4 linked regions of the Homo sapiens genome follow. The protein of the gene in region 1 purifies or fractionates together with the protein of each later gene. This does not show direct contact. Each region holds a gene or a part of one and is shown in the gene's direction. Other genes may lie near its edges. The genes, in order: CLEC12A, VTI1B, SOX13 and COLEC12.

Region 1 (7,342 bases):
AGGGACCAATGTGTAAAAGAATGCCTGGACGTCAGGCACCTCAGACCGTTTGCCTATTTTACAACAAGAATTATTTAGATCTTGTAGGATGGAAAAATGGAAAGTGACATTTTCTGGCTATGTGGAACTACTGTCGAGTTTGTATTGGGGTCAAGTGGCATTGCAGAAGAAAATAAGGCATTTAGGTTTTAGGTCAGCTGTGAATTGAAGAGGTTTTAGGTTTTTAAGAGCACAGGCTAAGGGAGAAGAAGGGGGAATGGAGGGCGGAAGCTTGCCCATAGTGAAGGAGGCAAGCCCAGAGAGAAGAGAGAGTAGAGACATGGAGAGAAGGGGTTGGGGGTTCTTGCCCCCAAGAAGAGCGGTACTTGCCGCTAAGGGTGAAGGAGAAGGGGTTGGGGGGTTCTTGCCCCCCAGAAAAGCGGAGAAGGGGTAGAGACATGGAGAAAAGCGGTGGGGTTCTTGCCCCCCAGAAAAGCAGAGAAGGAGTAGAGACACGGAGAGAAGGGGTTGGGGGTTCTTGCTCCCAAGAAAAGCAGTACTTGTCGCTAAGGGTGAAGGACCAAGGCAGGTGTCCCCACATGGTCAGACACCTCTGAAACATGGGTGAATAATCAGGCAGGCATCCCTGCCTGATTCCAAAGGGAAGACTGTCTTCCCAATTCCGTGACTGGTGCCGGAGTTTTGGGTCTATGAATAAAACGCGTCTCCTTCATCTCTGTCAGAAAAGGAAAGGAACTGAAATTAAGAGAGAGATTGAAGGGTGATGCCAAGATTGAAAGGAGAAAGAGGTTGAGGGATAGTGAGAGAGGTTGGAGAAGAGAGTAAAAAGAGGCCACTTACTGGATTTAAAATTGGTGAGATGTTCCTTGGGCTAGTTGGTCTGAGGACCAGAGGTCATAGGTGGATCTTTCTCATGGAATAAAGAGCAGGAGGACAGGGGATTGATCTCCCAAGGGAGGTCCCCTGATCCGAGTCACAGCACCAAATTTCACTCGCATCCGTGTGAAGAGACCACAAAACAGGCTTTGTGTGAGCAACAAGGCTGTTTATTTCACCTGGGTGCAGGTGGGCTGAGTCTGCAAAGAGAGTCAGCGAAGGGAGATGGGGTGGGGCTGTTTTATAAGATTTGGGTAGGTAAAGGAAAATTACATCAAAGGGGGGTTGTTCTCTGGCGGGCAGGAGTGGGGGTAACAAGGTGCTCAATAGGGGAGCTTTTGAGCCAAGATGAGCCAGGAGAAGGAATTTCAGAAGATAATGTCATCAGTTAAGGCAGGAACAGGCCATTTTCACTTCTTTTGTGGTGGAATGTCATCAGTTAACGCAGGAACCGGCCATCTGGATGTGTACATGCAGGTCATAGGCATATACACAGGCATATGATGGCTTAGCTTGGGCTCAGAGGCCTGACAATAACAACCCACAAAAAATATATAATTTAGGTAATGGATAATGTATCACTTATGTTTAATATTGGAAGACATCTGTAATTATATTTGCAGATTGTCTCTTAGTATTCAACTAGAATGAAAATTGATATAGGTTGATTTCATATCTTGTCTATTGCAAATAGTGCTGCAATAAACATGGGAGTGCAGGTATCTATAGTATATATACACAATGGAATATTATTTGGCCATAGAAGGAAATGAAATCCTGTCATTTGCAGAAACAGGAGTGGAACTGAAGGTCATTATGTTAACTGAAATAAGCCAGGCACAGAAAGACAAATATCACATGTTTCCACTCATATGTGAGAGCTAAAAGAATGAATCTCATGGAAGCAGAGAGTAGAATTGTGGTTACCAGAGGCTTAGAAAGGGGTGGTGGGGGATAAAGATAAGTTGGTTGGGTACAAAAATAAAATTAGATAGAAGGAACAAATTCTAGTATTTGATAGTACAGTGGGAAAACTATAGTTGACAATAATTTATTGTATATTTCAAAATAGCTAAAAGAGAAGAAATGTACTATTCCCAACAGAAGGAAAAGGTAAGTGTTTGACGGAATGAATATTCTTATTACCCTGATTTGGTCATTACACATTGTATACAGGTTTCAAAATATCACATGTACCTCCAAAATACATACAACTATTTTGTATCAATAACAAAATTTTTAAAAAACTGATATAGGCTGTGAAGGGCAAACCATGTAGTCATCTCAGAGCTCAGCTTATTCTTGTGGATATAAATGTTTTAGCTGGCTCTAAACCAAGGATTTTGTATGAAGTAATACTTATTCAAATATTTTCAACAAAATAGAGTACCTTGCAAACAGGACTTTGAGATTTTTCATTTGTTTCCCTTTACAGTTCGTCATATACGCTTCATCTTCTAGTGTTGATTGATGAAACAACGTTCCACATGAGACAGCAGAGCAATAGAACACAGAACAGGACTCTGCCTGTGTGGTGGCCGGTTTCCATCCTTTCACAAACAAAGAGATATTTATAAACAAATATTTATATGCAAATATTTGATCCACCTAGGAAAAATAGAGGGCTACTCTTTCCCACCAGGAGAGGCCTTATAGCCTGTGCACATATTTGAACAAGGCAACCAGAGACTTTGATGGTCTCAACTCTACCACTCACCAACTGTGTGATGTTGGATACAAACTTAACCACTTTGCAACTCACTTCCGCATCTGTAAAATAAGGGTGATAATAATAGCACCTGGTTTAGAGAGTTGTAAAGATAAAAGCAACATTAGTAAAGTACTTAGGATGAAGTAATCATGTTTTGAATATATTTTCCTTTAAATGTGGCTGCCAATATTTTCATGGTAATATTTTCAAATGTATTCAATAGCTTTTTCTTTATCAGGAGAAAATCAGTTGTTTTAATTAAATTGACATTGAATTTTTGATACATTTAGGAGAATTTAGTTTCTTTTTATACAGTATTGACGCTTCTAATCCCACAGCATGTTTTTCTATTTTTTTCTTTTCTTCAATAGTTTTAAAATTTTTTTGTTCATTTTGGTTATGCAAATATCTAGTTAATTTCTATCTGTAATATTTTCCTATTTATTTTTAGTAGCTCTTATAAAGGGAGCATTTTGTTTTTCCTGTCTATCCTGACATAATAAAGCAATTAGTTTTTAATTGATTTTTAAAAATATTTATGCATTCTCTTTCATATGTATAATAATAATACCTAACCATTTTATGATTTACATGTGGCAATGTCAAGAAGAATTTTAAAGTAAGATTTACTAACGAATATTAGAGAACATGCTCAAAAACAGTCCTCTCCACCCCCTCACTTCCACTTGCATTCTTGATCAAGAAGTGAAATAAAAAATACTAAGACTATTGAGTCAAACTAATAAGACACAAATCTGGACTTTGGAGACTCATTTCCCTCCCACTTTTGATAGCTTAGCTGAGGAGGAGATCAAATGGTTGAGTCAGTCTGTAGAGAGATAGCAAGGCTGATTATAGTTTTCCTGGCCTGCAAAGCTGTTTCCAGAGCCCTCAGTATACAGACCTTGGCCATCAGTATGCATACTCTCTGGTGTGGTTTCTGGGCATCAGATCCCTTAATATATAGGTTGGCGCTAAAGTAATTTTGTAAACTTTTAATGGCAAAAACCACAATTACTTTTGCTTTTAATGGCAAAAACCAGAATTACTTTAGCACCAACCTATATATTGTTATTTAGAGAAACTAGGCATTCCCTACCTCTCTTAGGCAAACCTATAGCTATGTAACATGGCAACGGAATGACACTAACTGTCTCATTCTCCTTGGGAGTGCTCTCTGTATGTTCAGTCTCCCAGTGAAGAGAACCCTTCTATCAGGACCTTCATCATCATACAAAAGGAATATCTATGCCAGGCCACAGCTGCAGATTAGTGAGTGTCTGAGAACTGCATCTTTTCTGTTATTTTTCTGCTTGAAAGTTTTTCACCAATAAATCCTACACTATGTCTGCACCATGTGGTGCTAGTTATTTGTGTTCTCTTGCATGACACTGATGATGTTATCCAAACACAATTTCAAAAACTACTTTCTGTAGTTGGTAAATATATAGAAATTGAGAAAAAGGAAGAAATATGAGGAAGAAAGATGTTATCTGTTGCAACAGTTCAATGTTCTTAACTGAAGCCACAGATGAGATTTGGCTCATTTGCAGACATATGGGTGATTGGTACAGTAGGTTTATAAACAGAAGTTTAAACTTGTAAGCTTAAGCTTCCGTTTATAAACAGAAGTTTAAAATTATAGGTCCTGTTTAACATTCAGCTCTGTTAACTCACTCATCTTTTTGTGTTTTTACACTTTGTCAAGATTTCTTTACATATTCATCAATGTCTGAAGAAGTTACTTATGCAGATCTTCAATTCCAGAACTCCAGTGAGATGGAAAAAATCCCAGAAATTGGCAAATTTGGGGAAAAAGGTAAGATTTTGAGTTATGGATGTGTTGTAAGTTTGTATAATAGAAGTGGTTATAGACTTGCATCTTCAATATTAGTGATATAGTTACTATTCAACTTAAATTTTCAATTAAGTCTCTTATGTTTAAGCAAAGGAACAAAAAGTGTATGAACAAAATGATTAGAAAAAAGGGTTTTGTAAAAACACTTATCTCTGCATTGAATAATCAATCTTTTACATTTTTGAAATTTTTTATTATCACACTCAATATAATTGGGACAGAATTTTTCAAATGATTGGGTTGTATGAAGATTTTATTTCTTTATGAGATGAAGCCATGGAAAAAGAAACATGTTCAGGAAAGTCATGATTTCATATGTGTGTGTGTGTGTGTGTTTTTTTTTTTATAAGAAAATGCTTTGTGTCAGACAGAGAGACCTTTATAGGATTTCATTTGACTATCTACCAAACTAAGCATAAATCACCCTAAAATTTCTCCTACTTCTTTTGGAGATTTTTTACTAACTTACTAAAAAATAAAACATGTTAAGTTAAATGAAATGAATCATTAAGGAATAAAGGAAGAAAAGAGGTAAAGAAATATCAGAAGACATAATATATTCATAATATTCAAAACCACATTATATCAAGTAACTTTGTATTTTTCAATTCAAATTAAAATCATGAAATAAGTGGTCCATCTGTGTTGACTTTCACTTAAACAAAACTACTCTTCATCTTACTCAGAATCCTATAGTTTTCCTATTATGTATGGTTCTTGCCTTCTGGCTCCTAGCCTTTTGGGAGTGAAATCTGCCCTAGCGAATCCATAGTTTAAATCAGTGTATTTGAGTTAAAAATAACTTAAACAGTGATAGTGGAGAACACAAAGAAGGGTGATAGAAACAGAAAAATAAGGAGAGAAGAGTGCCAAAATTCTCACATATTATTTAAGTTGTTGTCCTCTCTCCTCTCCCCACACAGAATATAACATCTTTAATATTCTAGCATTGCTATAAACAGAAATTTCACTGTTACATCTTGGATCCATTTATGATGAGCATTGTAAATCTTGAGAAAGGATAGCAGATTAATTCTGTTGGCTTCTTTTTTAATACTGAAATTTTTTTTTAGAAAGAAGAAGGGTTTAAGAATTTTACAATATTTTCTGTCTTTATTTCCTTGTTTATATTTCTTCTTTTATACACTGAAAGAGAATGGGCATATCATGAGCCTAATATTACCAACAATTGCCCTTTACTTGTCCTCTCACACCCTTTCCCACCTCTTTTCCTGCCAATCCACCTTAAGTTCCCACCACAAGAATTCCCTGAATTCACGGAAATATTGAATCCATGTCTTCTTCATGTTCTTAATCTCATCTAATTTTCTCATTATCGAGCTTAGAATCTACATTATGTAATATAACATTGTATTATGTAATGTCTACTCTTAGTCTCTTACACTTCTCCTCTTCAATGTGTGTTAATTTTTCCTTAAAAACTCCAGCTCTGGCTAGGTGCAGTGGCTCATACCCATAGTCCTAGCACTTTGAGAGGCCAAGATGGGAGGATTATTTGAGGCCAGAAGTTTGAGACCAGCCTGGGGAAAGTAGAGATATGCCATGTCTATAAAAAAAAAATTTTTTTAATTAACTGGGCACCCATAGTCTCAGCTGCTTGGGAGGCTGAGGAAAGAGGATTACTTGAGTCCAGGAGTTGGAGGCTCTAGTAAGCTAAGATCAGGCGAGTGTACTCCAGTCTGGGTGACACAGCAAGATCCTGCCTCAAACAAATCAAAACAAAACAAGACAAAAACCCCAAAAACAAACAAATAAAAACAACTCCAGTTCTGGTTAAACCCGAATATCCACCCAGTCTGCCCCAGAGTTGAATATTGCTGGTGAAAAATACACAAATTTTCAACCCCAGTTACTCTCACCTTTCCTCTGGTAAGAAAAAAGCATCCATCTACACTTTTTTTTGTTGTTATTTAAATGTCTATCCTACCATGTCCTTACTGATACTCTGCTTTCCTTCCAGATAGTATTTACGATAAGTATGTACTTATGAAGGGACGGCTCCTCATTTTGCTCTGAATTTCAGTCCATGTGTCGTTTTCAAAGACAGACTTCCGTAATTTTTTCCTTTCTCTCCTGTGTCATTATTCTCTCTTCCTTCTCTGCTTTTCCTTTTTGGTGCACCAACATACTCTACTACTCACCAATATACTCTGCTACTCCTTTTATAACAAAACACAATCCTTGCTTGACCACTTAAGCCTTTCCATTATTATTTAACTTCTTTGTTTCCTTTCACAACTCAACTTTTGAAAGCATTTTCTTTGGCCACTGACTCTCAGTTCTTCACCTCTCATTCTGTTCTCAACCAACTCTATTAGGCTTCTGCCCCCTTGGTGCCATAGAGACTGAGCTTTAGGTCACTGATGTCCTGCCTGTTTCATCCCAATAGTCACATGTCTCTTCCATTACTTCACTTCCCTGCAGCATTGAAAAAGTTGAACAGTCCTCTAAATGCTTTCTTTGCACATCCCTCCTGACACATCCTCATGGCTTCTCCTGTCACCATGCCTGCCTCTCCTCATTCTTTGTTGATTCCTCCTCCTAGATGAAACTCTACAAGATGGAATACTCTGAAGCCCTGTCCTGGGTCCCGTTTTATTGCATCACTCAGTACACTCTTCTAATCTACCTCATTCAGTTGTTTGACTTTAAATAGAGTGACTCCCCAATATCTCTGTATGACCTTTCCCTGAATCTCAAGACTAGAAAATACATGTGCCACTTTCACATTTCCATAAGGAGTTCTAATCTCATTTTAAACTTAAAATGTCAAAAATAGTAATATTTATTTTTCTTCTAAAATTGTCTCTCTCTCCAGACAGCCTCATCTCATTAAATACACATATAAATATATATTTAAATACAATTTTCAAGTG
Region 2 (7,077 bases), on another chromosome or scaffold:
TTACATTTTCTCTGGCTAAGGACTGGAGAATGAAGAGATAAGGACAAACACTGGCCCTGTGAAGTACATGGAGAACATGTGATCCCTAGTTGTTTTTATGTCATATTCCTTATCCCTGGCAGATGGCAGACTTCATTCTTAACACTGTGCTTCATACCTTTCTCTTTACCTTCCAGTGACTGTCATGTGGCATGGGTCTCTGCCCAAGCTCGTAATGAGACTATAGCAAGGCGGCTGTGGGACGTCAGTTGTGACCTGCTGGGCCTCCCAATAGACTAACAGGCAGTGCCAGTTGGACCCAAGAGAAGACTGCAGCAGACTACACAGTACTTCTTGTCAAAATGATTCTCCTTCAAGGTTTTCAAAACCTTTAGCACAAAGAGAGCAAAACCTTCCAGCCTTGCCTGCTTGGTGTCCAGTTAAAACTCAGTGTACTGCCAGATTCGTCTAAATGTCTGTCATGTCCAGATTTACTTTGCTTCTGTTACTGCCAGAGTTACTAGAGATATCATAATAGGATAAGAAGACCCTCATATGACCTGCACAGCTCATTTTCCTTCTGAAAGAAACTACTACCTAGGAGAATCTAAGCTATAGCAGGGATGATTTATGCAAATTTGAACTAGCTTCTTTGTTCACAATTCAGTTCCTCCCAACCAACCAGTCTTCACTTCAAGAGGGCCACACTGCAACCTCAGCTTAACATGAATAACAAAGACTGGCTCAGGAGCAGGGCTTGCCCAGGCATGGTGGATCACCGGAGGTCAGTAGTTCAAGACCAGCCTGGCCAACATGGTGAAACCCCACCTCTACTAAAAATTGTGTATATCTTTGTGTGTCTTCCTGTTTATGTGTGCCAAGGGAGTATTTTCACAAAGTTCAAAACAGCCACAATAATCAGAGATGGAGCAAACCAGTGCCATCCAGTCTTTATGCAAATGAAATGCTGCAAAGGGAAGCAGATTCTGTATATGTTGGTAACTACCCACCAAGAGCACATGGGTAGCAGGGAAGAAGTAAAAAAAGAGAAGGAGAATACTGGAAGATAATGCACAAAATGAAGGGACTAGTTAAGGATTAACTAGCCCTTTAAGGATTAACTAGTTAAGGATTAATAGCAAAAGATATTAAATATGCTAACATAGCTATGGAGGAATTGAGGGCAAGCACCCAGGACTGATGAGGTCTTAACAAAAACCAGTGTGGCAAAAAAAAAAAAAAAAAAAAAAAAAAAAATCCTAAAAACAAACAAACAAAAAAAACAATTCTTCATTCAGAAAAATTATCTTAGGGACTGATATTGGTAATTATGGTCAATTTAATAATATTTTGGGGCATTTCCTTACATTGTCTTGACAAGATTAAAATGTCTGTGCCAAAATTTTGTATTTTATTTGGAGACTTCTTATCAAAAGTAATGCTGCCAAAGGAAGTCTAAGGAATTAGTAGTGTTCCCATCACTTGTTTGGAGTGTGCTATTCTAAAAGATTTTGATTTCCTGGAATGACAATTATATTTTAACTTTGGTGGGGGAAAGAGTTATAGGACCACAGTCTTCACTTCTGATACTTGTAAATTAATCTTTTATTGCACTTGTTTTGACCATTAAGCTATATGTTTAGAAATGGTCATTTTACGGAAAAATTAGAAAAATTCTGATAATAGTGCAGAATAAATGAATTAATGTTTTACTTAATTTATATTGAACTGTCAATGACAAATAAAAATTCTTTTTGATTATTTTTTGTTTTCATTTACCAGAATAAAAACTAAGAATTAAAAGTTTGATTACAGTCAAAAGAAGAAAACACTGTTCATTATTATGGTTGTGCAATGATTTCTCATTCTAAAGAATAATTTGTTCCAGAGTCTAGCTACAGTGTAATCTCAATCCACATGCTATTAATTTAGGTTGTGTGATAATCTAATTGTTCATTCACCATTTCCTACTTAACCTTTTTTGACACTCTTCACAGACACTTTTTCCACATTTCTTGATCATCCCGGGCCATTTTTTTTTCCTTTCTTTTTAATTAGAGACAGCGTCTTGCTTTGTTGCCCAGGCTGGCCTCAAACTCTGGGCTCAAGCGATCCTCCCACCTTGGCCTCCCAAAGTGCTGGGGTACAGGTGTGAGCCGCAGCACCCGGCCCCAGGCTATTGATCCTTTTTTTGCACCTGCCCCTTATTTCTGTACTGTGACAAGTCCCAGCATTGTGCTGTGGGACTTACACAGTATACTGACTATCCTCAGACTTGGTCATGTCTATGCTCAGTGCATATTAAGAGCTTAACCAAAGTGTGTTGAATCAACAGCCAATGAACTTGATCTAATAAAAATGAGGGCCCAGGAGATACAAATTAGCAAAGCATTTTCTCCTGAGCAGTCATACATCTTTTAATATTTGTAGGCAGTTTAAAATTGAACTCCCAAGCAAACATTTGAGAACAGACACCTTGAGCAAACCGTGAAATCGGTGAAAATAATAATTTATTTTAATTTTTTGAGATAGGGTCTTCTCTGTCACCCAGGCTGGAGTGTGGTGGCACGATCTCAGCTCACTGCAACCACTGCCTCCCGGGTTCAGGCGATTCTCCTGCCTCAGCCTCCCGAGTAGCTGGGGTTACAGGCGCCCACCACCACGCTTGGCTAATTTTTGTGTTTTTAGCAGAGACGGGGGTTTCACCATGTTGGCCAGGCTGGTCTTGAACTCTTGACCTGAAGTGATCCGCCCGCCTCGGCCTCCCAAAGTGCTGGGATGACGCGTGAGCCACCATGCCCGACGTGAAGACAGGAATTTATACCCATGGAGTGCAAGAAGGGACCTTGTAATTTTTAACACGTGACACTTAGTGGCAGATGAGACCTAATGAAGCCAGGCCCACCTTCCACACCAGATTATAAATTCCCCTGGAGCAGAGATTAAATGTTTTATTCACCAACATGCCCAGATCCCTCGCAATGCCTACGCTTGACAAACACCTGTTGTCAACAAGTGCACGAGGCAGCCTAGGAGGAGAATTAGTCTCCACGAGGAGAATTACTCGGGCCTAGCAGCTAGAGTATTTCGAGGTCATCCTAACTGGGTTCCACTTTTGAATTTTTGGTTTTTGGGTTTTTTGTTTTTTTGGAGACAAGATCTCGCTCCACTTGGGAGCAAGGTCTCCCAAAGCTGGAGTGCAGTGGTGGGACCTCAGCCTCCGGGGGTAGCTGGGGCCAAAAGTGCGCGCCACCATGCCCGGTTCTTATTTTGGGTTTCTGGTAGAGCTCTCGCTATTGTGCCCAGGCTGGTCTCGAACTACTGGGTTCAAGCAATCCTCCCACCTCGGCCTCCCAAAGTACTGGGATTACAGGCGCGAGCCACTCGCCCGGCCGGGTTCCACTTCTGAAAGCTTGGGGAGCCGCTGGGCCTTCCAAGAAAAGTGCTCCACCTCCCGACGGCAGGCAGAGCCCCTGGCCCGGCTATCTTTCCAGGGCCGAAAGCTAACAGTCAAGACGCGAAACGAGGAATTCGGGTCAGGGTGGCAAAGCAAAGCGCGATGACAGTGAGGACGACGTCTAGACGCAAACATACATCAAATCGGGCCGAAGCCCGCTGTCGCCGCGCGGGCTGAACCTGGCACCCGGAGCAACGCGCGACCCCGGGACGAGACGCTCTCGTCCGAGCCAAACTACATCCCCCGGCGTGCACTGCAGCGCCCGCCCCTCGCCGGCCGGCGGGGCCCGGGAGGAAGGCGGCCGCGCTGCCAGTCCCGCAGGTCCCCTAGGCCCCTTTCGCTGCGGCCTTTCCCCAACCCGGACCCGGCACTTCTCGGGTTCCGCGACTGCCGATCGCCCCGGCGCGGCACCGCTCCCTCAGGAGTCGCCTAGGCCGCGCAGTCTCCCGACTTCTCGTCAGGCTTTCGCGCCGGCGCTCCAGCAATCACTGGCTGGAGAAGGTGGGCGTTCCGGCTCGAGAGGACCCTGCCGCGGCTCCGGAAGAGCCTCGTCCTGGGCGGCGGTGGTGCGGCGGTCGCCGTTATGGCCACTGGGCTGGGCGGCTGACCGCCGGGCTAGGAAAGGGCCCAGGGCCCCGAATCTCGGTGGCCGCTGCTCCAGCGCGGCCTGCGCCATGGCCTCCTCCGCCGCCTCCTCGGAGCATTTCGAGAAGCTGCACGAGATCTTCCGCGGCCTCCATGAAGACCTACAAGGGGTGCCCGAGCGGCTGCTGGGGACGGCGGGGACCGGTGAGGCGGGGGTGGGCCACGCCGTGGGGAGCGCAGCCCTGCGCGCTTTGGAAGGAAGATTCTCCCACCTTCCTCCCAGACCCGGGCCCGCGTCTCCTCCCTCCGCGTCCTCAGACACGCCCCCTAGGGCTGGCTTGTCCCAGCCCCAGGTCTCCCTGCTGCCACTGAGAGTAAATTGGACCTCGGGATTCAGTTCCCTGGGATCCTTCTATGGCCTTCCACATTTTCTCATCTTTTTTCACTGTGGCAAATAGAGCAGAGGGGCTTTTGCATCTGCGGTCCTGTAATGTAGAGTGGGTTTCTTTCATAGCTGTTTTTGTTTGTTTTATGCATTTAAAAGCACTAGTCTCAAGACAGGTCTAGTTTTCACCAGACTGACAGAGGATCCGTAGCACAGAAAAAGGGTTAAAAACCCAAAGGAGTCATAATTTGGGGGTGTTGGTAAATACCAGTTATTGGAGGGTAGAGAGCTGGCCTTTAAAACCTGATTGTGGCATTTAGATGTGGTCTTGTTTTGAACGTTTTTACAGCTGAGACTGTTTACTACCCCTTAATTTCATGATTCAGGTTGCTACAAGTTCTGTCTGGAGGAGCTAGAGTTTTCCGGCCCTAAATCCATAGGAAAAGCTGCTATAGTTCTTGGCCTCCGGATATATAGAATTTGATGGCAAGGACAAAACTTTGTTTTATTGCTTTTATTTAAGAGTCAGAGCTTGGGTGTTTGCTCAACGAATTACTCAAGGTCATAGGAATTGAATGACTGGTGAGAATGAAATTCATGTATTTAATATATATTTATTGTGAGGCTGCTGTGTGCTAGGTGCTGGTGAATTGTGAGGCACCGTTCTAGGTGCTGGTGAATATTGCAAATTACAGTGAAAAAGATACGAACATCCCCATTCTAGTGGGTAGGTGATAAACAATATATAACTATTAAGAGGCAGTGTTAAAGAATACAGGAAAGTAAATCAGAGTAAAAGAATAGGGGATGGGACTTCAGTTTTATTTTATTATTTATCATTTTTTTTTTTGAGACAGGGTCTCACTCTGTCACCCAGGCTGGAGTGCAGTGGCACGATCTCGGCTCACTGCAACCTCCACTTCCCAGATTGAAGCAATTCTCCTGCCTCAGCCTCTGGAGTAATAGGGATTACAGTTGCGCCACCACCCCTAGCTAATTATTTTTGTATTTTTAGTAGAGACAGGGTTTTGCCATGTTGGCCAGGCTGATCTCTAACTCCTGACCTCAAGTGATCCGCCTTCTTTGGGACTTCAGTTTTAAATAGGGCGGTTGTGAAAGTCCTCTCTGAGGAGATGGCGTTTGAACAGAGACTTAAATGAAGTGAGGGAGTAAACCAGAAATCAGGGAGAAGTGAGTGTCAGAAGGAGGGAATAGCACTGCAAATGCCTTTAAGCAGAAATGAGCTTGGTGTGTTCAGCGAAGAGCAGGAAGTTCCATGTGTTTGGGATGGAGTGAGCAAAGGAGAGCGATAAGCAGGGCCAGATCATGTAGGGCCTTGTGGACCATGGTGAAAGACTTGTGCCTTTTTCTAAATATGATGGGATGCAGTTAAAAGATACTGTGCAGAAGCATTGTGGGATCTGATTTATGTGATTGAAAAGTAGACTGCAGGCAGGGTACGGTGGCTCACACCTGTAATTCCAGCACTTGGGGAAGCCGAGGCGGGCGGATCACTTGAGGTCAGGAGTTCAAGACCAGCCTGGCCAATATGGTGAAACCCCATCTCTACTAAAAATACAAAAATTAGCCGGGCATGGTGTCAGTTGCCTGTAGTCCCAGCTACTCAGGAGGCTGAGGCAGAATTGCTTGAACCCAGGAGGCGGAGGTTGCAGTGAGCCGAGATCATGCCACTGAACTCCAGCCTGGGCAACAGATCAAGACTCTGTATCAAAAAAAAAAAAAAAAGAAAAGAAAAGAAAAAAAAGTAGACTGCAGGCCAGGCATGGTGGCTCACACCTGTAATCCCAGCACTTGGGGAAGCTGAGGCAGGAGTATTGCTGTGTTGAACGATTTTGAGACCAGCCTGGGCAACATGGTGAAACCTCATCTCTACAAAAAATAAAAAAATTAGCCAGGCATGGTGGTGCATGCCTGTAGTCCCAGCTCCTGGGGAGGCTGAGGTGGGAGGATCACTTGGGCCCTGGAGCTGGAGGTTGCAGTGAGCCAAGATCGCACCACTGCACTCTAGCCTGGACCACAGAGCAAGACTCTCCCAAAAAAAAAAAAAAATGTAGACTGCATTTTCAACCTGGCACTGAATTAATTTTTGCAATGCCCATTTCTATAAGTCTAAATAATGCAAAAGAACATTGCTTTGAAAAATAGAAAATTGAATTCATTATTACTATGGTTTGAATGTCCCCCTCTAAAACTTATGTTGACATTTATTTGCTATTTTAATCGCATTAAGAGGTGGGACCCATAAGAAATGATTAGACCATGAGGGCTCCATCCTCAGAGATTAGATTGTTATCCTGAGAGTGGCTTGGTTGTTGAGAGAGTGGGTTAGTTCAGCCCTCTCTTGCTTGCCTGCTCTCTTGATCTGTTGCCCTTCCATCTTCTGCCATGGGGTGACCCATGGGTAGCAAGAAGGCCCTTGAAAGAATCAGCCCTCTCAGCCTTGGGCTTCCCAGCCTCCAGAACTCTGAGAAATACATTTATTTTCTTTATAAATTACCCAGACTCAGCTATTCTGTTATAGCAACATAAAGCTAAGATAGTTACATTCACCTTTGTTGTCTACCCAGCCTTTTTCTCCATCCTGCAAAGAGGACAATCAGAAATATGTGAATTTCTTTTCTTTTTTCTTTCTTTTTTTTGTTTTTTTGAG
Region 3 (7,268 bases), on another chromosome or scaffold:
CATACTTCCCCTAAACATCTAATCCCCATGCAAAAAAAAAAAAATCAAAAAATGTATTTAACAGTGCTTTTCTAACTAGTGCATATCAAAATCACCTGGAGGTCTTGTTAAACCTGATCCCTGGCCTAACTCCCAGAGATTCTGATTTGTGGGAGGGACTTATGACTTTGCCTCTCAAACAAGCCCCCAAGGCATGCTGAAGCTGCTGGTCCTTATACTGCATTCCAACTAGTAGTGGTTTAACAAACACCAGATCATGTGATGTTATTTGGAAATGTGATAAACAAGGAAACAACAAAACACCAGATCGGTGCTTACTGGTGCCACAAACTATTCTAAGTACCATATAAATATCAACTCCTAGTCCTCACGGCCATCCTATAGTGTAGAGACTCTTACCATGCTCATTTTACAGATGAGGAAACTTGAAGTACAGAGCAGCTAAGCAACTTGCCCTAGGTCACTTGGCTAGTCAGTAGCTGAGGCAGGACCCATGCATAGCTGGAACCTGCTGTGTTCCCACTAGAACCCAGAGCGCATCTCTGTGACTTTGGAGGATAGGCATCTGCTGCTCCGCCCAAGCCTGGCATGACCCCTGGAAACCACTCCCTGAGATGCTGCGATTGCTCAGCTCCTCAGATGTCCCAGGCAGTGATGTGACAGGAAAGGAACAGCAGGTGCAGAGTCTCAAGAGGGTCTGCCAGGTATACCAGCTGCTTAAACTAGGAACTGCAAACTCAGATGCCTATGGTGGCCAGACTCTGAGAGATTCTAGCTAGATACCGGAAAATATTTTTCGTAAAGCCAATCATCTCAGTCTGTTATTCCCCCCACCCCCGCCCTTTATTTTTTTAAAGAGATGGGAGTCTCATTAGGTTGTCCAGACTGGCCTCAAACACCTGACCTCAAGTGATGTGCCTTCCTCAGCCTCTTGAGTAACTGGGATTACAGGCATGAACCACCATACCCGGCTATTTCCCCCCGTGTGATAGATGCATGAAGCAAGAAATCATTTACTTTTACCTTATCTCCACTGTAAGAAGAAGACTATATGTCTTATATATAGAAGAATATATGTCTTATATAGTTAATACTTGGTTTCCTTTTTGAGGAGTAGTAGGAGTGTAGAGGCTAAAGTAGACTGGCCTGTCCATAAGAAATACCCATTACTCAATTCCAGCCAATTTTTACCACAAAAACAATTGAGCTAGAAGTTCAAATCTAGATTTTTATGTGTTATCTCTTGATTTTTAAGTATTGGTAACTAATTATAAAAATGCATTTGTAGGCTGGGCGTGGTGGCTTACGCCTGTAATTCCAGCACTTTGGGAGGCTGAGGCGGGCAGATCACCTGAGGTCAGAAGTTGGAGACCAGCTTGGCCAACATGGCAAAACCCCATATCTACTAAAAATACAAATATTAGTTGGGGGTGGTGGCGTGTGCCTGTAATTCCAGCTACTCGGGAGGCTGAGGCAGGAGAATCACTTGAACCTGGGAGGCGGAGGTTGCAGTGAGCCGAGATCGTGCCCTTGCACTCCAGCCTAGGTGACAGAGTGAGACTCTGTCTCAAAAAAAAAAAAATGCATTTGTATACATACAAACATGCACAGACACATGCACACATGCGTGCACACACACACACACACACACACACACTTTCTCTCTCTCGCTGTCGCTCTCCAACTCTGTTGGGCTCAGAAACAGCCAGTCAGTATCTGGCCTCGTTAGTTGGGCCGTCAGTCCACTAGTCCCGTAGTCCCAAGCATTACACAGGCAGCTGCTGCGCAAGGGTAGGCCCACTCTTCTCTAGAACTTTTTGTTTAAAAAGCAAAAAACAAAACAAAAAAGCATGAGGGATACAAGAGGCTTTGCTGATTTTTCTGTGGGTTCACAAGTAAGCTTGCCCTTTCTGTGAGTGTGCCCATGTGACAGGCACCAGGAGGCACTTGGGTGGGGTCAGGGGAGCAAACAGTAGGGTCACTGCCTCTGGGCAGAAGTTTACGACTGGGGACTCACCTCAGCTCACTCTGTCCCTCCCCCAGGATGTCCATGAGGAGCCCCATCTCTGCCCAGCTGGCCCTGGATGGCGTTGGCACCATGGTGAACTGCACCATCAAGTCAGAGGAGAAGAAAGAGCCTTGCCACGAGGCCCCCCAGGGCTCAGCCACTGCCGCTGAACCTCAGCCTGGAGACCCAGCCCGGGCCTCCCAGGATAGTGCTGACCCCCAAGCTCCAGCCCAGGGGAATTTCAGGGGCTCCTGGGTCAGTGTCCCCGCCCTGCCTCCATCCTCACACCCATGCGCTGTACCTGGGCTCTCTGCTCGGCTGGGCAGGCCCACTCCCCTAGATGGCAGCAGATACAGGCAGAAGTGGTGATCCTAGGGGTAAGACGCCATGTAGGGAAGCAGGGAGGCACTGCCAAGTTCAGTCTGAGGCTGGAAGCGGGGTCACCTATCAGAGCAGGACCTAGACTCATGCCTGTACTTACTCGCTTGATAGTGACAGTTCACCTATGTGTGACCCAGTCCTTGCTTCTGAGGACTAGATGGGGAGATGGGACACACATGCTAAAGTTTGGCTTTAAAGTAATCTACCAGATTTTTCAGATGATTTGGGAAAATCAACCTGATTACACAAGCAAGAATTAGGTCACTGTTAAAGATGATACGGTTCTTGACCCTTAAAAAAACAAGAGAATTGAGCTGCATGATTCATAAGGATTCTTGCAGCTCCTAAAAATTCTGATTTCACATATGAGATGTAAAAAGGTGATATATAATTAAAATCCAAATAAGTGAAAATGAGGAGAGTTATGGGCTCTAAGAAAGAATCCAGCCTGGAGGAAGGAGGTGGGGGGTGGGGGCACTGGTGATCAAGGAAGGCTTCCTGGAGAAGTAGAGCCTCAAGCTAGGCCTTAAAGGATGGGGAGGACTTTGACGAGAAGAGGAGTGAGGCAGGCAGTGGGGAGTGTGAGTAACTTTTGCCAGCCCCTACCTGCTCCCCTATGCAGCCCAGCTGGTGTAGTGGGTATGTTCAAGGGAGTGATAACTAATAGCTGACTTTTGGCCCCTGATTGTAATGGCAAATCTCATTCACATGCATTAACTCCCTTGATCCCAGCAACAATCCTGTGACAGAGGAGGTATTAATATTTCCATTTTCAAAAGAGGGAAGTCAGGTTCAGAGCATTTCAGGGACTTGTGTGGGATCAAGCATCGTGTGAGTCACTGAGCCTGGACTGAAACCCAGGTCTTTTGTTTTGAAATCTTCTGTTCTTTTCCTAAACAAAGCTTGGGCAGGTGGAGGCCAAAGGGACCTAGTGAGTGGAGAAGTAGGACTTGGATAGGGCTGGGATCCCTCAGGGTACACATCTTTGGGGTGCCCAGCCCTCCCTGCAGCCTGTCCCCTTCTCTTGGGGGTTATGGTGACAATTCAGTATGTCTTGCAGGACTGTAGCTCTCCAGAGGGTAATGGGTCCCCAGAACCCAAGAGACCAGGAGTGTCGGAGGCTGCCTCTGGAAGCCAGGAGAAGCTGGACTTCAACCGAAATTTGAAAGAAGGTAGGATGTCTGCCCTAGTTAGAAGCAGAGGCCTGAGGCAGGGAGGTGTTAAGACGGTTATTCCTCACCCCTTTGCTGTCTTCCAGTGGTGCCAGCCATAGAGAAGCTGTTGTCCAGTGACTGGAAGGAGAGGTTTCTAGGAAGGAACTCTATGGAAGCCAAAGATGTCAAAGGTGAAGGCCTGTTGGGGGTGGGGGAGATGTTTGAACCCCATCTCTCTTCTCCTGGTCTGGCCACGCAGCCTGGCTCTGTAGGGCAGTTCTTGGTACATACCTATCCTGTGCCATCTGGCTCCTGCCTGGCCTTAGGGGTCATCACCATCCCTCGCCTGGAGGCCCCAAGCATTAGGTCTCACTCATCCCATGCAGGAGAGGCCTGGTAGGAATCAAATCCCATGACTCTGAATCTGGGCTCTCACCAGGCACCCTTGTGACTTCAGGCATGTCATTGCCACTTCCCGAGTCTAACCGCAAAATGAGCAGAAAGTTCCCTTTCACTCTAATTAATTCTAGGTCAGTTGGACCTCACTAAGTGAGTGAAAAGTAGTTACTAATGGGCTGCTGCTTGGGTTCCTTAGAGTGATTTTTTTTTTTTTTTAAGATACAGTCTCCCTGTGTCGCCCAGGCTGGAGTGCAGTGGCACAATCTTGGCTCACTGCAGCCTCAACCTCCTGCATGATCCTCCTATCTCAGCCTCCTGAGTAGCTGGGAACACAGGCACCTGCCACCAAGCCAGGCTAATTTTTATATTTTTTTTGTAGAGATGACGTCTTACTATGTTGCCCAGGCTGGTCTCGAACCCCTGGGCCTAAACAGTCCTCCCACCTTGGCATCTCAAATTGCTAGGATTGCAGGCATGAGCCACCCACTGCACCCAGCCAGAATGATCATTTTTGCATTGTCATTGATCACACCCACAGAGGGAACTTTAAAACCGTACAGATGCCCAGGCTCCACCCCCACCTATTGAATGGGAACCCCAGGGTATGGTAGGGGCCTGGGCCTCTATACTTCTCAAAGGATCCATGAGTGATTCCGATGTTGTTTTTTTTTTTTTTTTTAAAAAAAAAAAAAAAAAAAAAGGTCTATGGCCAGGCACTCAGGAATAAACTGCTGCATCAGACAGGAGCTAAACTGGAGGTCAGGGGGACACTAACATTTATTGGTTGAGGACCATGTGCCAGATCCTGGACTAAGAGCTTTGCATATATTAGCGCTTCTTCTTCTTTTTTTTTTTTTTTTTTTTTTTTTGGAGAGAGACAGCTCGCTCTGTTGCCCAGGCTGGAGCGTAGTGGTGTGATTTCGGCTCACTGCAAAGTTCACCTCCTGGGTTCAAGCGATTCTCCTGTCTCAGTCTCCCAAGTAGTTGGGATTACAGGTATGCGCCACCATACCCGGCTAATTTTTGCATTTTTGTAGAGATGGGGTTTTACCATGTTGTTCAGGCTGGTCTCGAACTCCTGACCTCAAGTGATCCACCTGTCTCGGCCTCCCAAAGTGCTGGGATTACAGGCGTGAGCCACCACACCTGGCCTCTATTAGCTCATTTATCCCTCATAGTAACCCTCTGAGGTGATTATTATTATGCCCACTTACCAAGATTTTGAAAACCCTAAAGTGCAGAGAAATTGGTAACTTGCCTAACAGCTCACAGACAGGATGGGTTGAAATGGGAATTTGACCCCAGACCTGTCTTGCTTCAAAGCCTGAGTGTGTCCCACTGGATCCCTCCGATGGGATGGTTGTCCACCCTGACCCTGTGTGGCGCTGAGCACTCGAGGACATTGAAGAGGCCTGGGGCTCTGGGGCTGACATGTCCCACTGTCAGCATTTTCAGGGGGCCTGGAATTCATGGCTAATAGGGGAGAACTTCTAGGCTAGTAGTTGCCAGGTAGCAACATGAAGAGCCCCCTTCAAGGCAAGCATCTTGTGTCATCATCTCTGTGGCTCAGCCCCTAATGGTCCTGGGACATAGCAATTGCTCAATAAGTTTCTGATGGATGGGTGGATAGATGGATGGATGTATAGATGAACAAGTAAAAAGTCTCAATGGGGTCTGTTTCACTGTGGAGCAGGGACCCAAGAGAGCCTAGCAGAGAAGGAGCTCCAGCTTCTGGTCATGATTCACCAGCTGTCCACCCTGCGGGACCAGCTCCTGACAGCCCACTCGGAGCAGAAGAACATGGCTGCCATGCTGTTTGAGAAGCAGCAGCAGCAGATGGAGCTTGCCCGGCAGCAGCAGGAGCAGGTAGGTCCTGTTCGGTGGGTGTAGCTTTCTTTCCAGGAAAAGGAGTGTGTCAGGACCTAGAGAAGGCTGCCTTAGGGACAGGCCTCACCAGTGCAAGCTGGGGCCTGGGGGCAGGCTGGGCAGGGTCTGTGGCCAGGGGCTGTAGGATTCCCACCTGGACTGATTCATGAGCCCTTGTACAGGGTTAGGGGTGGGAGGGTATGAAAGGGACTCTGCAGGAAGAGCAGCTTGCAGCTTCCTGCCCAGCCTCCTGGTCCTGGAGGGAGGGATGAGCTTCCTGCAAAAGGAGAACCAATTCTGAGGGCTGACTGCTTTGCTCCCTACTGCCACCCCACTCCATGGCTTGCCCCACTGTAGAAAGCAGGGTGTGGTTAGGGCTGGGCAGACTGGGCACCAGGGCTAATGTCCGTGACCCCCTCTGCCTACTCTTTCCCTCTCCCAGATTGCAAAGCAGCAGCAGCAGCTGATTCAGCAGCAGCATAAGATCAACCTCCTTCAGCAGCAGATCCAGGTAACCGGAGGGGAGACCCGGAGAGGCACAGGAGGCAGTTGAGGGAGTTGACACCGGCCTGGAGGGTGCTGGGGACAGGGGATGTGCACCAAGTTAAAGAGCCAGAGCAGAATCACTCAGGCCTGACCTGAGGAGGGTTATTTCTATTCTAGCCCCCAACCTGTCTTCCTTCCCTGATTAAAGGGAGGAGCCCGGCATGTCTTCCTCCCCAGCTGAGACCTGAGGGCAGGTAGACAGGGGCCCACAGAGTTGGCCTAGGGTCAAAGGGATCCTTTGGAAAACTGTCCCTGCTTTATCCCCTGTGCCTCTTGTCCATGGGTCCATTCTCTGTGCCATGGGCTGACCATAGCTGGGTAGCTCTTTGGGTCCCTGGGGACTCACACAGGGTTTCTTTGCCTTCAGCAGGTTAACATGCCTTATGTCATGATCCCAGCCTTCCCCCCAAGCCACCAACCTCTGCCTGTCACCCCTGACTCCCAGCTGGCCTTACCCATTCAGCCCATTCCCTGCAAACCAGGTGAGTGTGAGAAGGGAGGTTCCACCACTGCGGCCAGCCTGTCCTGAGGTCAGGGAAAGCGCCCTGGAGCCACTCTCATCCATTAATTTGCTATGTGGACTTTCTGGGCCTCAGTTTTGGATCTGTCTGGTAGAAGAATCATCCTCTTTTTCTGAATCTTGCTGAATTTCTCTGAACTTCACTGGGAGAATGAAAAACCATAAAGCCCTTTCCAGATGTAAAATGATGTAGCAATCCAGGTCTAGTCTCTCCAACTCTAGTACATTTACTGTGTCAGAGTATTAATATCTGGAATATTGCCAGGTGTGGTGGCTCACGCATGTAATCCCAGCACTTTGGGAGGCCGAAGTGGGTGGATCACTTGAGGTCAGGAATTCGAGGCCAGCCTGGCCAACATGGTGAAACCCCATCTTTACTAAAAATACAAAAATT
Region 4 (7,268 bases), on another chromosome or scaffold:
AAGAGTGAGACTCTGTCTCTAAAAAAAGAGAGAGAGAGATTAAGTGTGGCCTTTTACTTATTCATGCAGAATTGTGAGATTTCAGAAACTCTAAGATTCATTCATTTCAACATCAGAAGACCTGAGTTCATGCCCCAGCTCCACTACTAGATTGTGACTGACCATGTCTTACTCTCCTTGGTATCTGTTCCTAGTAGCTAAGTATCCTCGAACAAATAGTTTGGCATCTCTGGCCCTACATGTCCTCATTTATGCAATGAGAATTCTACCGCACAGGCAAGGTCAGGTGGCATAATGTATGTGAAAGTACCCTGAAAATTGTCATTCACTATACAGTTCCTGGTAGGAGATTATTTGTGTGAAATTTCCTGTTACCCCTGAGAAATTAAAGAAAGAAAAACAATCCTGTGTTACATGGGCCTCTTTGTGGGATAATGGGGATGAGCAGTATTCGCTTTTCTTCCCAATTAGATGGTCCACATACCTTTTTTCTCTAGCCTACCTTCCTTATGTGTATTATTAGACTTACAAACCCACCCAGAGAGTTTGGACACCTGTCCACAATGGGCAGCAAAGTCCCACCAGGCTTTCCCACAGAGACCTCCCGTCCCTCTGAGCTGGCCCATGGGTGAGTGAGGCCCAGCCCTAAGGACAGCAGCACCCCCACAGCTTTGGTGGACAGCACAGGCATGCCAGCTGGGGTACAACAGAGAGGAAGCTTACAGGGAAGTTATAGGCTTGGTTATGGGGAGAGAATTAATACATCAATCTCCTTCAGTTCTTTATCCCACAATACCTTAACACGGTGCTTGTCATATAAGCCTTTAATAAATATTTACCAAATTAAGGACAAGAGGAAATAAGTAAGAGGAAATCCTGATCCTGGTCTACACAACTTTCCTGCTGATGACAACACAGGCCCAGGTGACTAAGAGAACCCAGTTTAATCATGTGAGTCACTGTGAAGAATAAGCCCCTGGCTGTCAGTGTCACCATGAAGGACATCAGTGGGGCACTAAAACGTTGTGCACTGTTACAATACATTCTAAAAGCTTGAAGAAGAAGGGTGAGCTTACTGAAGAACACACAGTATATTGGCTTGCTTGGGCTGCCATATACACAGTACACAGTACACGGACTGGGAGGCTTAAACAACAGACATTTCTTTCCTTACGGTTCTGGAGGCCGCAAGTCCAAGATCAAGGTGTCAGCAGTGTTGTTTCCTCCGAGGCCTCCCTCCTTGGTTTGCAGGAGTCCATCTTCTCCCTGTGCCCTCAAGCGATCTTTCCTCTATGTGTCTGTGACCTAATCCCCTCTTCTTTAAGTACACCAGTCCTATTGGATTAGGGTCACTCATGTCACCTCGTTTTAACTCGATGACCTCTGTAAAGGCCGTGTCTCTTAATAAGTCCCATCCTGAGGTGCTGGGGGTTAGGACTTCAGCATAAGAATTTGGAGGAGGACATAATTTAGCCCATAACAGTCTACAGTAGTATGATAAACAGATGGTCTTTCCCTGCTGTATATACTTTGTATGCTAGGTTTTTTTAATTTGGAGATTTTATAAGAAGAAAAATTATTCATAACTATCATTCACAGTGGATTTCATGTTGACACCTTTTTCTTTTATGCTTTAGGTCCACCGGGCCCCAGGGGTCCAAGAGGTGACAGAGGATCCCAGGGACCCCCTGGCCCAACTGGCAACAAGGGACAGAAAGGAGAGAAGGGGGAGCCTGGACCACCTGGCCCTGCGGGTGAGAGAGGCCCAATTGGACCAGCTGGTCCCCCCGGAGAGCGTGGCGGCAAAGGATCTAAAGGCTCCCAGGGCCCCAAAGGCTCCCGTGGTTCCCCTGGGAAGCCCGGCCCTCAGGGCTCCAGTGGGGACCCAGGCCCCCCGGGCCCACCAGGCAAAGAGGGACTCCCCGGCCCTCAGGGCCCTCCTGGCTTCCAGGGACTTCAGGGCACCGTTGGGGAGCCTGGGGTGCCTGGACCTCGGGGACTGCCAGGCTTGCCTGGGGTACCAGGCATGCCAGGCCCCAAGGGCCCCCCCGGCCCTCCTGGCCCATCAGGAGCGGTGGTGCCCCTGGCCCTGCAGAATGAGCCAACCCCAGCACCGGAGGACAATGGTAAGTCCAAGCCCTCCCTCCAGCCAGGGGGACAGGGCAGTGCATGTGCTTGAGACTGAGCCAACCCCCAGTGTGTGGCCCCACCCATGTTATTTTTGTTTTTGTTTTTGTTTTGAGACAGGGTCTCACTCTGTTGCCCAGGCTGGAGTGCAGTGGCGTGATCTCGGCTCACTGCAACCTCCACATCCCGGGTTCAAGTGATTCTCCTGCCTTAGCCTCCCAGGTAGCTGGGACTACAAGCGTGTGCCCCCACAGCCAGCTAATTTTTGTATTTTTAGTAGAGAGGGGGTTTCACCGTGTTGGCCAGGCTGGTCTCAAACTCCTGGCCTCAAGTGATCCACCTACCTTAGTCTCCCAAAGTGCTGGGATTACAGGTGTGAGCCACCACGTCTTGTCCCCCGCTGCATATTATTTAACAGCAAAGGCATCATAGGGGCTGGCACAGGAGCCCTGCTGCCAGAACAGGCCTCCATACCAGGCATGTGTTTCTCTCTAAACGCCATTGGGTTCTCTAGTGCTCATTTGTTTTATGTATTATGTGTGTATGTATGGGACAGGGTCTCACTCTGTCACCCAGGCTGGAATGACGAAGTGAAGTAGTGCAAACATAGCTCACTGCAGCTTTGACCTCCTGGGCTTAGGTGATCTTCCCACTCAGACTCCTGCGTAGCTGGGACCACAGGGGTATGCCACCACACCTGGCTAATTTTTTATTTTCCTTTTTGTAGAGACAGGGTCTTGCTATGTTGCCCAGGCTGGTCTTGAACTCCTGGCCTCAAGCAACCCTCCTGCCTCAGTCTTGCAAAGTGCTGGGATTCCAGGTGGGAGCCACTGCACCTGGCTCTTGCACTTGTTTATTTATAGGAGCCAGCCCTCAGAAGACAAACACAATGCAAAACATTTCCTTCAGGGAAGCCTGCTGGCCGCCCTGAGCGCTCTTCCCTCGTTTTACATCCTCACTCTGGAGATAGATGGGCTCCCTCGGTTAGCTCCATCAACATGTGGATGGAACCCTCTGCTATTGATGACTACATTTAATTTCTTTTTGAGAAAGGTGTTAGATGTTACGGTGCCTTCTAGTCTTTTGATAATTAAACCTTTGGCAAAACTCGAATGTTTGGTTAGCAACCAAGCCTATTTTTCTCTCCTTTGACCCAACCGCTATTCTACTTGATTTTGGTCGGTGAGGCCCGGGTTATTTTTGTTGATCCGTGAGCCCAGTTTTGGTGCTGGGTTCTCACATCCAAGTGTTCCTGGGTTCCGTATGATTCCAGACTGACGCTGAACATCTGTGCCTGCCCTGCTTCTTGTTGTTGCTTCTGTTATTTCTGTCATTGTGAAGACGGATCCAGACACAGAAGAACAAAGACCCAGTCAAAGATCTTTTCCAGATTATGTGGTTTTGGCTTGTGCTCTGCAGTCCACTTTGGGTCATGCTTGCTGCGAGCACGTCCGTGAACGTCAGCTGTGGGCCTCGTGCAGGGACGCTCAGGCTGCTCCCAGCGGGACCACAGTTTTGGCCTCTGAAACACAGCTGAAGAAAGGCAGAGTGCTTTCTGTGATCTTTTAATCAATGTTTTCCACTTTTGCATTCCTAGGCTGCCCGCCTCACTGGAAGAACTTCACAGACAAATGCTACTATTTTTCAGTTGAGAAAGAAATTTTTGAGGATGCAAAGCTTTTCTGTGAAGACAAGTCTTCACATCTTGTTTTCATAAACACTAGAGAGGAACAGGTATGCCTGCCACATACTTGGTTGGGGAAAACTATAATTTAAGGATAGTTTACATCTGGAAATTGCAGGCTTGTTGGGGATTCAGAGATATCACGAATTCCTAGTCACGTAAACATGGGAGGCAACATTACAGAGATTTGGGTTTCATCCAGTGGCTAGAAGCATTCGTGGCATTGGAATTGTATCTTCATGATTCTTCCTGGAAGATATTGCCTATCAAGCCTGGAGATGTGTGGCTCCTTCTGGTGGCTGTTGAAATAATTATAATGCAGAGAAGCTTGAGGGCTGCCACCAGGCACCTGTGGGGACAGAGAGAGGCATGAACACTGTAGGGATGGAGTGGGGTGCAAGGGACCACGCATGGCTCCAGAGGAGTCAGGAAGAGCGAAGAAGGCTGAGGAGGCAGAGCCCACGCATGCTAATGCTAGTGTCCACTCATTAGACCCTCTATATGCCAGGCACCGTGAGAGGCATTTGCTCCCTTGAACCTCACAGCAACCCTAGAACATAGGTATTATTATTACCCTCATTTGACGGCTAGGAAAACTGAGGCCCGGCAAGGTTTATGCAGACTGAGACCAAAACTGCAGCCCATCTAGCAACAATGCAGCGCTTTCTTTGATACCACACCAATTCCAGTGGCCTCCTCCCTTCTCCCTAAGTTATCTCCAGCAGACACAATCCTGTAAACAGATGTTTCCTGTAGTAACTGACTGGAATGAGCACACGGCAGACAGTGACCAAGCACCTGGGCTTTAGAATACACAGACCAGGGCCCAAGCCCAGCTCAGCTACTTCTCATGTTTGTTCAGTGGGTTGTTATAAAAGCTTGGAGACACACTGCGTGCAACACACTGCACGTGGGGCCCAGCCCAGAGGAAGTGCCCAAGAATATCATGACTATTCCTATGATTAGGACATGGGAGAAATGGGTGGGTGGTAGGAGGAAGTGGGACCAATGGACATTCACTGGGTTGTCTGAGTGATTTAGAGGAAGAGCCTCACTTTAACATCCGTTGTAAACTTGTAAGAGGAAAAAAGTCAAAGCCCCCCAAACAGCACAAAACAAAGCAAGTAGCAAGAAAAAAGCAGAAAGCAAAAGCAGGCTACACATTCTGACAACCATCCTCTTTTAAATTGTCCTTTTTTCTAAATGTTAAATAAAAGAAAAAGGCCTGAGACATCTGTTCTGAAAAATAGTCACGCACCACCCCTGCTTTGTTTTTCAGCAATGGATAAAAAAACAGATGGTAGGGAGAGAGAGCCACTGGATCGGCCTCACAGACTCAGAGCGTGAAAATGAATGGAAGTGGCTGGATGGGACATCTCCAGACTACAAGTAAGTACTCAGAAGCTTCCAGATTGGTGGTCAGGCTCTCACTGTTCTGTTGTCACTTCTTGCCCGACTCCCAACAGTTTCTTCCTTAATGACCTCGTGTCCTAGACGCTCCTCCCAAACCGGGGCTCCTGGTACCAGTTGCATATTTCCCCTGGGGAAATCGTGGTTGACAGTTGATACGCTGTCAAATAAGGCTTTCCTTTCTTCTTTTCATGGAGTGAATTTTTTTTCATTTCTAAGAAAAAAATCATGAAACTCATAAAACCACACAGCATAATACTTCTGGCCAAGTCATTTTCTTTAAATGCTATGGGAAAAGATGATGAAGCCCAGGCAACCTCAGGCATGTTCAGCGTTCGCCCCAGGCGTGTTTCCAAGGACTGGGGAGCTCCCTTCAGGATCACACTGTGGGTGCCCCTGACCCCTAGTTGGGCTTCTAGGCAGAGTGTGATTAGAAACTACAAATGAGTAATTTTCCTGGCTGGGCACAGTGGCTCACGCCTGTAATCCCGGCACTTTGGGAGGCTGAGGTGTGCGGATCACTTGAAGTCTGGAGTTCGAGACCAGCCTGGCCAACATGGTGAAACCTCGTCTCTACTAAAAAAACAAAAAAAACAAAAATTAGCCGGATATGGTGGCGCATGCGGGTGATGCCAGCTACTCGGGAGGCTGAGGCAGAAGAATTGCTTAAACCCAGGAGGCGGAGGTTGTAGCAAGCCGAGATGGCGCCACTGCACTCCAGCCTGGGCCACAGAGCAAGACTCTATCTCAAAAAAGAAAAAAAAAAAAAAAAACTACAAATGTGTGATTTTCCTACTCATAGTAAGTTAAAATACACTATAAACAAAGTTGCATTTGCGGGATAACCATCCCCTAGAGGTTTGAAGATTCCCCATAAGTTCCATGTGACCTAAGTTCTATGAAAGGAGCAACAAAGAATAGAATCACTTTGAGGTACCTTCTTGGATAACCTAGAAGTCTCCAGGGCCTCATCCTACCCTAGGGGGTGTTAGCTCCTTCCCTAATTCTACCCAAAGATCTAACAATGACTGTATTGCATCAGTTTGATTATCACATCTCCATACTCTGGCTTTGCCTCTGACGGGTGTGAAAATTGCAAGGAACTGTAACAAATGAAGCAGAATTTATAAAAAAAATAAAATTAAAAAAAAAAAAAACCCTCTGAGTAACCTTTAGTTTGCTGGGGACGGAGAGGCCAGACCCTGCAGGGCTCCACCAGGCACAGGAGCATCACCGCATTGGAAGCACCTTCTGAGAGCACTAGGCAAAGTCCACGGTGTGGCCTCTGGGGCTGTCCCAGGAGAGGAGAAAACAAGGGTGTTTCAGGCCTAAGAGAGTCTCATGGGCATGGAGGCCTAGCCCTGTATCAGCTGAGCAGCAGGGAGGAGGGTCAGAGGTGATGGAGAAGCCAGATCGAGTTTTTTAAATGTCCCTATGTGCGTGTGCATGTGCATTTGGATAAACAGGCTCTTTTGTACTTTCAAATTCTCCATGTGAGTAGGATCAGAGGATAAAGGAGGAAACCAGAATAAGGCCATCTCTCTTTTGTTTTTATTTGTTTGTTTTTAAGGGACAAGGTCTCACTCTGTTGCCCAGGCTGAAGGGCAGTGGCACGATCATGGCTCACTGCAGCCTCTTATCTCCCCAGCTCAAGCGATCCTCCCACCTCAGACTCCCAAGTCCCTGGAATCACAGGTGCACATCACCACACCCGGCTAATTTTTAAAGTTTTTGGATAGACGTGGTCCACTATGTTGCTCTGGTTGGTCTCAAACTCCTAGCCTCAAGTGATCCTCCCACCTTGGCCTCGCAAAGCACTGGGATCAGAGGTATGAGCCACCGCACCTAGCCAGGCCAGCTCTTTATAAAAAATAAACATGTGGCGAAATATTGATTTGGAACATTAGAAGATTTTAGGTCTGCTCTGAAGGTGAGCCTCAGACTGCCCTTAAGGGCAAGTGGATATCTGCTGCAGGCCTGTCAGAGACTCGTCGGCTCCTCTGCGCCTGTCCTGGGGAGAGGAAGGGGTACCCCCTGGCATAATCTG

Evidence for each region.
Region 2: the proteins of CLEC12A (region 1) and VTI1B purify together in Homo sapiens (affinity purification with mass spectrometry; 3 studies listed by BioGRID and IntAct, with this or other methods). This does not show direct contact.
Region 3: the proteins of CLEC12A (region 1) and SOX13 purify together in Homo sapiens (affinity purification with mass spectrometry; 3 studies listed by BioGRID and IntAct, with this or other methods). This does not show direct contact.
Region 4: the proteins of CLEC12A (region 1) and COLEC12 purify together in Homo sapiens (affinity purification with mass spectrometry; 3 studies listed by BioGRID and IntAct, with this or other methods). This does not show direct contact.

What each region holds. Positions count from the first base shown.
Region 1 is NC_000012.12:9,967,282-9,974,623, forward strand, and holds the start of CLEC12A (C-type lectin domain family 12 member A), read left to right. Parts: upstream 1-4,127; 5' UTR 4,128-4,295; coding exon of another isoform or gene 4,296-4,315; coding exon 4,316-4,406; intron 4,407-7,342. UniProt on the Homo sapiens protein: Myeloid inhibitory C-type lectin receptor that acts as a negative regulator of myeloid cell activation. Myeloid cell inhibition is required to limit proinflammatory pathways and protect against excessive inflammation.
Region 2 is NC_000014.9:67,671,523-67,678,599, reverse strand, and holds the start of VTI1B (vesicle transport through interaction with t-SNAREs homolog 1B), read left to right. Parts: upstream 1-3,967; 5' UTR 3,968-4,110; coding exon 4,111-4,225; intron 4,226-7,077. Other genes in the region: RDH11 (retinol dehydrogenase 11), read left to right, coding at 177-279. UniProt on the Homo sapiens protein: V-SNARE that mediates vesicle transport pathways through interactions with t-SNAREs on the target membrane. These interactions are proposed to mediate aspects of the specificity of vesicle trafficking and to promote fusion of the lipid bilayers.
Region 3 is NC_000001.11:204,110,872-204,118,139, forward strand, and holds part of SOX13 (transcription factor SOX-13), read left to right. Parts: intron 1-2,043; 5' UTR 2,044-2,044; coding exon 2,045-2,263; intron 2,264-3,449; coding exon 3,450-3,561; intron 3,562-3,647; coding exon 3,648-3,734; intron 3,735-5,635; coding exon 5,636-5,808; intron 5,809-6,250; coding exon 6,251-6,319; intron 6,320-6,721; coding exon 6,722-6,836; intron 6,837-7,268. UniProt on the Homo sapiens protein: Transcription factor that binds to DNA at the consensus sequence 5'-AACAAT-3'. Binds to the proximal promoter region of the myelin protein MPZ gene, and may thereby be involved in the differentiation of oligodendroglia in the developing spinal tube.
Region 4 is NC_000018.10:329,600-336,867, reverse strand, and holds part of COLEC12 (collectin-12), read left to right. Parts: intron 1-1,637; coding exon 1,638-2,126; intron 2,127-3,724; coding exon 3,725-3,861; intron 3,862-5,090; coding exon 5,091-5,200; intron 5,201-7,268. UniProt on the Homo sapiens protein: Scavenger receptor that displays several functions associated with host defense. Promotes binding and phagocytosis of Gram-positive, Gram-negative bacteria and yeast.